Regions from separate parts of the Homo sapiens genome. Here region 2 is linked to region 1. Evidence: fine-mapped expression QTL. A gene starts in region 1. The other region holds a variant in brackets. All regions are shown on one strand. Distances are between the middles of the regions. Region 1 holds the start of SZRD1 (SUZ RNA binding domain containing 1). Region 2 overlaps FBXO42 (F-box protein 42).

What was found.
Region 2: its variant is fine-mapped to the expression of SZRD1 in whole blood (INTERVAL, PIP above 0.99).

Annotation. Positions count from the first base shown.
Region 1 is chr1:16,365,692-16,368,604 of GRCh38, reverse strand. It overlaps SZRD1 (SUZ RNA binding domain containing 1), which reads right to left and starts at 1,363. Exons shown (of 4, transcript NM_001114600.3): 1 at 1,297-1,363. The coding sequence starts at 1,347. RefSeq lists enhancers at 567-856, 1,607-1,666.
Region 2 is chr1:16,325,556-16,328,468 of GRCh38, reverse strand. The region is part of intron 1 of FBXO42 (F-box protein 42); the gene reads left to right. Among named protein-coding and RNA genes, the nearest start is that of FBXO42, 25 kb to the left of the region's middle. The variant AAAAACATCACC/C (reference allele first, on the strand shown) is at 1,726.

The DNA of each region.
Region 1 (2,913 bases):
TAACTTTCTTAAGCCAAAACTCAAGAAAGATGGTTGTCACATTAAGAACTCTACTAAATATCCTCTGAACGAACGAATCCTTCAAATTCTCAATTATGCTAAATGGAAAAACATAAACAACCGTTGAGAGAAATGCTGAACCAGCGGAAAAAACTTCAAAGCCAAGTTTCAACATTCCCGTAGAGCTAGATACACCCACTGACTGCTGCCAGGGTCAATTTCCCGGCCTCTTCCAGAGCTCATAAGCACCCCCAAAAAGCGCTTAGGAAAAAAAACCCAGCGCCTACTCTACCCTGGTACGCTCGACTCCTCGCACACGTAAACCTTTAAGGTGGATGTCAGTGCAGCCAGCATTGAACAGACGCGAACACGGGGAGACAAAAAAAGCATCTCCCCATATTCACAAGGGTCACCACAGACAAACTCTGAAAAGACCAAATTATTCACAAATCTAAGAGAATTGACAGATCCTCTTTGAGATAAACTATTTTCCTACAGTTTCTGGAGGCAAACAAAAACTCCAAAAACAAGTCGAACGGTCCATCTCCCCACTCCTCTCCCAAGAATGTGGCTGTTTTACATATCACACCCTGGACTCCGACAAGCGAACTCCTAGACCTTCCCGGGGCCTCGGATCGCTGAGTGGCAGAGGAGCTGCCCCGCAGAGCTTTCGGTTGCTTTGGCAGAGTCCCCGTGAGACCTGCCTGCCTGCCCACAAACTCTTCTTGGAGTAAAAGTGAAAGAGAAAAAAAACCCGACTCGTCCACCGTGACGGATGGTGGGGGATTTTAGCAGAGTTGAGTAGCCCAAAGAGGATTCAATTTCCCCCCGCCCTCGGCTGCCTCCTCCCGCTTTCCTGCGAAGCCGGACATGCCTCCTTGGTCCGCGCAAGCCCCACCACCACCCACATGGTGTGTCCGTCCCGGTCAGAGCACAAGAACTTTAAAATGGTGCCTCGGGCCACAAGGCTCATCGGAAAGAGTCACAGAGGCCCACGGCCAGCAAGTGGGCGCGGGGGGTCAGGAAAGGAGGCCCCGGGTGGCGGGTGGGGCGCCCCGGGTGACGCGCGCGTTAGTGGGCGGAGGGAGGCGCACCAGGCAAAGGAAAGGAGAGAAATGGATCGCGGCCCCTTTAAGAGGCCTTCACGGCGCTCAGGAACTGGGGGCCTCTCCACCACCCCCAGCCCGGCGTATGGGGCCCTTCCTTGGGGAGAACTATCTCCAGACCCGCTCCCCGGAGGCTCCCCTCACGCCAGGTCTCGCCCGGCCCTGCCATGGGACGGCGGCTCCTCCTTACCCCGCTGTCTGCCGCCTCTTCCCAGCTCTCAGCGACCTCCTCATCTTCCATCTTACTCGCCGCTTTCCCTCCTCCCCCACCCCCTCCCCGCGCCTGCGCTTTGAAGCGCGCCTCCGTCGCGGGCGCAGGCACGCAAGGCTTTACTCAATGGACCCCGCCCGCTGCCAAGCCCGGAAGAGGCGCCAGGCAAGGTCCCAAGTGTACATTAGGGCAGCCATCTTGGAAGGGGGCAGAGAAGGCGGAAAGATGCCATCTTTCTTAAGGGCCAACGCGTTATCTGTCTTACAGAATGGGCGTTCAAGGGAAGTCCTCATCTCGAGTACCGGAAGTGTGTTCTGTGGAACCATCTTTTCTAAGGGCAGGCAATTAAAGAAAACTTTTTTTCTTTTAAAGTGAGTCGTAGTTTTCCTAAACTACAGATAATGGTATCTTCAGAATTCTGAAAACATTTTTAAACACCAACAAATGATGAAAAATATCTGCTGATGCAGAAAACATTTTATTATTTCTGATAGGGTGAAAATCATTACAGTATTTCCTGCTCATAAAGCAGTATTCTAATCATTTATTAACACTATATCCGCTACCGTAAGGTAAAGACGGTAAAGATAATATTGCACCTCAGTTGGGAGAACCAGTGGGATTCCCAGCTACTAAGTTCTCCTGGGTCTTTAATGGTAGATAAATACGTTAGTATTACCTCTAAAAATTACTGGCCAGGCGCGGTGGCTCACGCCTGTAATCCCAGCACTTTGGGAGGCCGAGACAGGCGGATTACCTGAGGTCAGGAGTTCAAGACCAGCCTGGCCAACATGGTGAAACCCCGTCTCTACTACAAATACAAAAATTAGCTGGGCATGGTGGCACACGCCTATAATCCCAGCTACTCCGGAGGCTGAGGCAGGAGAACTGCTTGAGCCAGGGAGGTGGAGGTTGCAGTGAGCCGAGATCATGCCACTGCACTCCAGCCTGGCCGACAGAGTGAGGCTCTGTCTCAAAAAAAAAAAAAATTATTTATGTCAGGGCAGGCGTAGTGGCTCACACCTGTAATCCCACTTTGGGAGGCCAAGGTGGGCAGATCACCTGAGGTCAAGAGTTCGAGACCAGCCTGACCAACACGGAGAAACCCCGTCTCTACTTAAAATGCAAAATTAGCTGGGCATGGTGGCACATGCCTGTAATCCCACCTACTCGGGAGGCTGAGGCGGGAAGATCGCTTGAGCCTGGGAGGCGGAGGTTGCAGTGAGCCAAGATTGCGCCATTGCACTCCAGCCTGGACAACAAGAGCAAAACTCTATCTCAAAAAAAAGTTATTTATGTGGCCGGGCATGGTGGCTCACGCCTATAATCCCAGCACTTTGGAAGGGTGAGGCGGGGGGATCGCTTGAGCCCTGCAGTTTGAGACCAGCCTGGGCAACGAGGCAAAAGCCCATCTCTACTAAAAAAAAAAAAAAAAGCTGTGTGATCTTAACGCAAGTTACATAAGGATTCTATGTCTCAGTTCCCCAAGTGTATACATTAGAGATAGCTACTTCAAAAGTAGATTGTAAGAATTTAACCAGTTACTATGCTGAAATGCCTAGAACAGTGCCTGACCCATAGTAAGAGTCCTAAGGG
Region 2 (2,913 bases), 40 kb after region 1:
TTGGTCTAGCCATCTGCCAACTATTTACTTAATCGTTCAATGCCAATATACATGTATAGCTAGATTAGTATTGTTAGCCTCTGCTTTTGTGAGAAACAACTTTGTCAAGTAGAGACTAGTGCTTATATGAAGTTTCTTTTGCCTTTAGTTTTATAGATGCCCCTTATTTCCAAAGTTACTTAGGTTACACCTTTTCCTCCACCCAAGGTGGTCTCATATATTTGTAATATAGTTGGATTGTTTTATCATAATCTAGGATCCCCCAGCCTCCTGAGTAAGTGGTTTTTTTTAAAAATTTACATGTATTAAATTTCACTCTTTGATGCTGTGGGTTTTGACAAATGTGGGTTGTGAGCTTTGAGTCTTACCAGTTTTATAGAAAACCTTGGAATTTCTCACAGTGGCACTTGTCAGTATAAGCTGCGTGACTTGGATATGTCTATCATTTTGATTGTTTCAGACTGTCCTGGCTGGGCAAAGTGGGTCACACACGTAATCCCAGCACTTTGGGAGACCAAGGTGGGCGGATCACTTGAGGTCAGGAGTTTGAGACCAGCCTGGCCAACATGGTGAAACCCAGTCTCTACTAAAATACGAAAATTAGCTGGGTGTGGTGGTGTGTGCCTGTAGTCCCAGCTACTTGGGAGGCAGAGGTGAGAGAATCGCTTGAACCTGGAGGCAGAGGTTGCAGTGAGCAGAGATTGCACCATTGCACTCCAGCCTGGGCAACAGAGCGAGACTCCGTCTTAAAAAACAAAACAAAAACTTTCCCATCTTAAAATAAATGAGATTGTGTTTACTTTGCAGTAATTCATCAAGCTCTACTCTTAGGATGGTCACTTTTCTGTGTTACTTGGATTTTAAAATGCTTTAAAGAATTGAATGGTTTGGGCAAAATAGTTTAGGCTCTATCTTTAACTCTGAATCTATTTATCTTTCTAATTTTGAACTCCTTTTAATGTTTTTCTTCTGGGACTTACCACGATTAAAAGTTAGCATTTTTGTTTTGTTTTACTTTTTGGTTTTTCAGCTAGGCTTCTGACAGTATTGCACATTTACATAAAAGTGTAATTATGCCTTTGCTTAAGATTTGTTTTTATTTCAGTTAATTCGTCAGTGAAGAAAAATACATTTTATGCTCTACTCCCAACTAAGATGAACTGTCTTACAGATGGCTTTGTGCTTTTGGTCATAAGCAAGGCCATGTGAAAGTACGGTTCAGTGAAGTCTTTCAACACTGAACACCTCAAGAGTATACTTTGCAACCGTAAGTGAGTCATTAACATCCCTCGTCAGTAAGGTACTTTATGATCTTCATCAAAAAAGTACCGATATTGTTAAGGTGTCTACTAATGTGCCAGATGTACAAAGATAATATGGCTTAGTCTCTGCTCTCAAGTAGTGTACACTCTAATGGGGAAAAAAGGAAGTTAAAATGACATTTAGAAGTGGGTCATAGAGAGAGATGGTGAGAGAGAGATGGTGCTGTGTAAGTGAGCAGGCTTCCTGGTTGACACCTTTTGGGATTAGGAAGATTAAATGGTTCATAGTAAACTGAATGTTTTCAGAGCAGACCTATCTTGTTTAAGGGCCTTTAGCCATTACTTAGATGACATTTATGTAGCTCATCTCCATGTTTTATTAGTTGTTTGTTTAAATTATGTGAGTAATGAAAGGTGTAGTTGATTCTGGCTTACGTGTTTTAGATGACTTATAAATCCTAGA[AAAAACATCACC/C]TATCAGAATTAACTCAAGAATAATTTTTTTCTTTTTTTTTTTTTTTTTGAGACAGGGTTTGGTTCTGTTGCCCAGGTTGCAATACAGTGGTGTGATCTTGGCTCACTGCAACCTCTACCTCCTGGGCTCAAGTGATCCTCCCACTTCGGCCTCCTGAGTAGCTGAGACTACAAGTGTGCACCACCACACCCCACTAATTTTTGTATTTTTTGTAGAGATGGAGTTTGACCATGTTGCCCAGGCTGGTCTTGAACTCCTGAACTCAAGTGATCCACTTGCCTTGGCCTCCCAAAGTGCTGGGATTACAGGCATGAACTACTGCACCTGGCCTCAAGAAGAAATTTTAAAACTCGAGTAGTTGTATTAACAATAAAGAGGCTGGGCACGGTGGCTCATGCCTGTAATCCCAGCACTTTGGGAGGCCCAGGCAGATGGATCACCTGAGGTCGGGAGTTCGAGACCAGCCTGACCAACATGGAGAAACCCCGTCTTTGCGAAAAAATACAAAATTAGCCGGGCATGCTGGTGCATGCCTGTAATCCCAGCTACTTGGGAGGCTGAGGCAGGAGAATCGCTTGAACTCAGGAGGTGGAGGTTGCAGTGAGCCGAGATCGTGCCATTGCACTCCAGCCTGGGCAACAAGAGCGAAATTCCATCTCAAAACACACACAGACACACACAGACACACACACACACACACACACACACACACACACAAATTTGGGCACTGAAGTTCCATTTTACCTTTCTACCAAATAAAGCATTTTGCTGAATTTAAAACGTATGGTTCTCCATATGAAATTTTCGGCCAGGTGTGGTGGCTCACGCCTGTAATCCCAGCACTCTAGGAGACCGAGGTGGGCAGATCACCTGAGGTCAGGAGTTTGAGACCACCCTGGCCAGCATGGTGAAACCCTGTCTTTACTAAAAATACAAAAATTAGTTGGGCGTGGTGACGCATGCCTATAATCCCAGCTACTCTGGAGGCTGAGGTAGGAGAATCGCTCGAGTGAGTTCACTGCACTCCAGCCTAGGTGACAAAGCCAGACTCTCTCAAAAACAAAACAACAAAAAAAAGAAAGTATATTGATGGGTAGTTTGTGGAATACTTTATTTTTCCATTTTTAAATTTTTTCTGTTTTATTAAGGGAATCTTAATTGGGTAGCACACTAATG